Linked DNA regions of Homo sapiens: region 1 is linked to region 2. Evidence: fine-mapped expression QTL. Tissue or cell type: whole blood. Region 2 holds a variant in brackets; the other region holds the start of a gene. All regions are shown on one strand. Distances are from middle to middle.

Region 1 (2,600 bases), 54 kb before region 2:
CCAGGCTGGTCTCTAACTCCTGACCTGAAGTGATCCTCCTGCCTCGGCCTCCCAAAGTGCTGGGACTATAGGCGTGAGCCATGCACCCGGCCTGATTTTCTGAACATGGCTGAGGGCTTTTCCCTTCCCTAGTGGTGGCATAATTCTATTCCTGTCGTCCCAGATCGCCTGACCAGGGGAGAGTCCTGGATAAGAACCAAGACACCTCCTCCTGGTGCTGACTCCACTAACTACAGTCGTAAAACACACGCTGTGTGCAAAGAGACTGTACTTTGTTCCTAGAGAAAATAAAGCTAGTTCTTGATTCTACATATCTTGATGAGTTACACGGTTTACTTGAGGCAGGAGGATCGTGAGACCAGCCTGGGCAACACAGTGAGACTGCGTCTCTTTAAAAAACAAAAACAAAAAGATAAGACCCTGTCTCGAAAAAGGGGGAATAAAAAGTAACCCAAAAGTAACTATAAATATCAGGAGTCCATCAAGTGGCGCTTCCTCTCCTGGCTTCAGAGTATCTATTCATCACGGTGTGCCAGGTTCGCAGCACAGCGGAGCGGGCCGGTCCCACCGGAATGGGGTTTCGACTTCGCCATCCCCTAGCAGCTCAGTTCCCAGCAAGGAATCAACACACCCTTGCAAAACGGACGTGGGAAACAGCTTAGGCAGAGACGCTATTTCTTTGCCATCCCTGGGCTTCAGCTCTGGTGGAACGAGGCTATTTCTGGCAGTTAACAACACACACGGTTAGATTCTAAAAGCTCAACAGGGTTCATAACACCGCCTCTGAGCCAGACATCAAGGGCTCCACACAGCCGACTTCACATCTCCAAATCCTACTAACTGGGGATGAGGGTCCACGCGGTTCAGAAGCGGAAGCGCAGGCGCAGGGAAGCGGGGCAGCTTGTCCAAGGTCGCCTCGCCGATAAACGCGAGTCCAACCAGACCCCTTGGGCCTCCGTTTCCCGGTGGCATTCGTAGGTTTTGGCCAGTAGGAGACCAGACGTGCCGGCGGCCGGGGAGGCCAGCGTCGTCGGCCTGTCCCTGCCCCCGGGAACCCCGGGAGCCCCGGTGGCGGCGGAGTCTCGCCAGGGCTCAAGGCCGAGCGGACGGACGATGCCCCAGCCCAAGGCGGGAGGCGGCGGCGGCCTCCAGACCCGCCCTCGCCGTCCGGCCGGCGTACACTTGGCCCCGCGGCCTGCAGCGGCCGTCCCGGGCCCCTCACTCACCGGTCTGCCTCCCCGCGCTCGGGATCCGAGGACCGGAGCGAAGCGTCAGTGACGCCGCCAACGGGCCCGGATCAGGCCACTGCCATCTTTCTTGCGGGCGGGGGCGGTGCGAACGGGCGCGACCTCACGGAGGGGACGCCGGCGCCACCATCTCTCCTCCGGGCGGAAGCGGTCGCGGGGCCGCTCCGAGGTTGACCAATGACAAGGGTGCCCGAGGCCACGTGACGGCCGCCGATTGGCCGCCGGCCTCCGAGCGCCCCGGGGCTCGGCGTCTGCGGAAGGCCCCGGCGCGCTCCCAGGAGCGCCGTGCGCACGCGCACCGCCCCGAGCCGGCGGCGCCTGCGCACTCGCGAGTCCGGCCTGGGCCGCCGGCCCGGCGCGGGCGCCATGAAGCTGCTGCGGCGGGCGTGGCGGCGGCGGGCGGCGCTAGGCCTGGGCACGCTGGCGCTGTGCGGGGCGGCGCTGCTCTACCTGGCGCGCTGCGCGGCCGAGCCCGGGGACCCCAGGGCGATGTCGGGCCGCAGCCCGCCTCCCCCCGCGCCCGCGCGCGCCGCCGCCTTCCTGGCAGTGCTGGTGGCCAGCGCGCCCCGCGCCGCCGAGCGCCGCAGCGTGATCCGCAGCACGTGGCTTGCGCGGCGCGGGGCCCCGGGCGACGTGTGGGCGCGCTTTGCCGTGGGCACGGCCGGCCTGGGCGCCGAGGAGCGGCGCGCCCTGGAGCGGGAGCAGGCGCGGCACGGGGACCTGCTGCTGCTGCCCGCGCTGCGCGACGCCTACGAAAACCTCACGGCCAAGGTGCTGGCCATGCTGGCCTGGCTGGACGAGCACGTGGCCTTCGAGTTCGTGCTCAAGGCGGACGACGACTCCTTCGCGCGGCTGGACGCGCTGCTGGCCGAGCTGCGCGCCCGCGAGCCCGCGCGCCGCCGCCGCCTCTACTGGGGCTTCTTCTCGGGCCGCGGCCGCGTCAAGCCGGGGGGGCGCTGGCGCGAGGCCGCCTGGCAACTCTGCGACTACTACCTGCCCTACGCGCTGGGCGGCGGCTACGTGCTCTCGGCCGACCTGGTGCACTACCTGCGCCTCAGCCGCGACTACCTGCGCGCCTGGCACAGCGAGGACGTGTCTCTGGGCGCCTGGCTGGCGCCGGTGGACGTCCAGCGGGAGCACGACCCGCGCTTCGACACCGAATACCGGTCCCGCGGCTGCAGCAACCAGTACCTGGTGACGCACAAGCAGAGCCTGGAGGACATGCTGGAGAAGCACGCGACGCTGGCGCGCGAGGGCCGCCTGTGCAAGCGCGAGGTGCAGCTGCGCCTGTCCTACGTGTACGACTGGTCCGCGCCGCCCTCGCAGTGCTGCCAGAGAAGGGAGGGCATCCCC
Region 2 (2,500 bases):
CCAGGGGCTGGGTTGGGGGGTCTCTTTCCGATGCCTGGCCCCGTGTGCCATCAGGAACAGGATTGCATGGTGGCAATGGGGCAGGTCATCCCTGAGTGCCTCCTTATCCTGAAGAAGGCTGTGTCCCATTGCGGGTACATAGTGTGTGCTGGACCACTGGGGGTGCCGAGCGTGTGCTGGACCACGGGGGGTGCACAGCGTGTGCTGGACCACGGGGGGTGCCGAGCGTGTGCTGGACCACGGGGGGTGCCGAGCGTGTGCTGGACCACTGGGGGTGCACAGTGTGTGCTGGACCATTGGGGGTGCATAGCGTGTGCTGGACAGACCCCGGGAGAACACTGCAGATACTGCGTGTCCAGGCGCTGTGCATCCCGTGGGTTGGCCACATGGCACGACGCAGATCCAGACAGGGTGGAGAGGCCAGTGTAGTCCTGTCTCACACACACGCGCACATGCAGGGTGGGGTCCGGCTCCTCTCTGACCAGGGGTCCAGGCCCTGCCTCACTCAGAAGCCCTGGGGACCCTGACTGGCCCTCCAGACCCCAATCCACAGCTCCCGCTTCTGCTGGCCTGGCAGCCCCCACTAGGGGGATGGTGCTGCCCTGTCTATGCGCCAGGTGGAGACGAGGAGTGGGGACTGGAGTCACAAAGACCCTTCCGAGCCTCTTAGCCTCCCTGCTCAGATGGCCTTGGGGACGCAGGGTGAGCAGAGCCATGTGCCCAGTGGTGGAGCTCCTGGCCAGGCTGCCTGGAGGCCTGTGCGGCCCACACACCCGAGGGGAGCCGTCCCCACCTGGTGTCCCCAGGCCCCGAAGCTTCTGGCTCGCTCTAGCACCTCCCCAGAGTACCTCGGAGCAGGCTTGGGCAGCGGGACAGCCTCGCAGACCAGAGCTAGGCCTGTCCCAGGACTCCAGAGCCTCCAGCGCGGGACTGGGCAGGCAGTGGCTGGGCTTCCTGGGGCCCTTGTGTCTCCGCAGCTGGCCCCGGTACTCAGCTCAATGGGGCCACCCCGAGCCACAGTGCCGAGCGGTGTCCAGGCCAGACGCTTCCTGGACTTGGCTGGATGGGCCTGGCACAGTCGGTCCTCAGCAGGCCACACTGGGGGCTGGGGTGGGTGCAGCCATCAGGGGCAAGAAGGGCAAGTCTTCCCCTGAGCCCCAGACCCCACGCGGGGCGCATGGACACGCTACCGTACTTGCCTTTGGGTAGATC[G/A]CCTGGGCCTGTGGCTCCCCAGAGGCCCTGCCACCTGAAGGGATGGCAGCACAGACCCACTCAGCACAACGCTGCCTGCAAACAGGGCCAGGTAGGGCCTGAGCACCCTGTTCTCTGAGTCCTGCTGCCCCAGCAGCCCAAACTCAAACTCAGCTCCAAGGCTACACTGAGACGTGTCAGGGACGGGTGTATCCGGGGAGAAGGGCGCAGTGTCAGAGCACCCTGGGAGGGGCTTGTCCGAGCGACCGAGCAGGTAGGGCGGGGCACTGGTGGCTGACAGACATGACAGGCCCAGGGTAGGGAGGCCTGAGTGGGTGCAGGCCGGGCCCTGCTGAGGCCACTCTGCACACAGGCTGCAGCCCAGACGCCCCCCAGGCCGGGGCCACCATCAGCACCACCACCACCACCCAAGGAGGGGCACCAGGAGGGGCTGGTGGAGCTGCCCGCCTCGTTCCGGGAGCTGCTCACCTTCTTCTGCACCAATGCCACCATCCACGGCGCCATCCGCCTGGTCTGCTCCCGCGGGAACCGCCTCAAGACGACGTCCTGGGGGCTGCTGTCCCTGGGAGCCCTGGTCGCGCTCTGCTGGCAGCTGGGGCTCCTCTTTGAGCGTCACTGGCACCGCCCGGTCCTCATGGCCGTCTCTGTGCACTCGGAGCGCAAGCTGCTCCCGCTGGTCACCCTGTGTGACGGGAACCCACGTCGGTGAGGGCCAGGGCTGTCGGCGGGAGGGGTGGCCGCCCCAGCTCCTTGCCCCTGTGACCGTCTCTAACCGAAGCCCCACTGGCCCCTGTAGCCGAGGAGGGGGCTCTGTGTGGTCAATGCCACCCTCCTGGTCACTGTGACCTCCCAAACCTCGGTGCCCAGCCCGGACCTCTCGGACTGCCAAGGAGGGGGCTCAGTGTGGTCACTGCCCCCTGGAGGGACACCAGGGCCCTCGGGAGCCTGGGAGGAGAGGTGGGGGTGGGCGAGGCTTTCCAGAAGGAGGGAAGGTGGGAGGGGCTGCGAGCGGGCTGGGCTCCGGGGCCGACCTCACCGGCAGCCACGGCCTCCAACTCCAGCTCTGGGTCCAGCTCACCCCACTGGGCGTCCCGAGTAGGGGAGGCACTGCTGTCCCGACAGCACACACTGGGATGCTGGGGCCAGTGTGAGGCCCCGGGCCGGCAACTCTGACTCCAGGGCCCTGCGTCCCAGGCCGAGTCCGGTCCTCCGCCATCTGGAGCTGCTGGACGAGTTTGCCAGGGAGAACATTGACTCCCTGTACAACGTCAACCTCAGCAAAGGCAGA

What was found. PIP is the estimated chance that this variant, and not a neighbour inherited with it, causes the effect.
Region 1: it holds the start of B3GALT6, and the variant in region 2 is fine-mapped to the expression of B3GALT6 in whole blood (TOPMed, PIP above 0.99).

What each region holds. Positions count from the first base shown.
Region 1 is chr1:1,230,666-1,233,265 of GRCh38, forward strand. B3GALT6 (beta-1,3-galactosyltransferase 6) reads left to right here and starts at 1,572. Exons shown (of 1, transcript NM_080605.4): 1 at 1,572-2,600. The coding sequence starts at 1,614. SDF4 (stromal cell derived factor 4) reads right to left here and starts at 1,336. Exons shown (of 7, transcript NM_016176.6): 1 at 1,227-1,336. RefSeq lists a silencer at 814-1,673 and enhancers at 1,290-1,971, 1,972-2,600.
Region 2 is chr1:1,284,362-1,286,861 of GRCh38, forward strand. SCNN1D (sodium channel epithelial 1 subunit delta) reads left to right here. Exons shown (of 18, transcript NM_001130413.4): 6 at 1,210-1,303; 7 at 1,565-1,917; 8 at 2,407-2,500. Among named protein-coding and RNA genes, the nearest start is that of SCNN1D, 5.2 kb to the left of the region's middle. The variant G/A (reference allele first, on the strand shown) is at 1,213.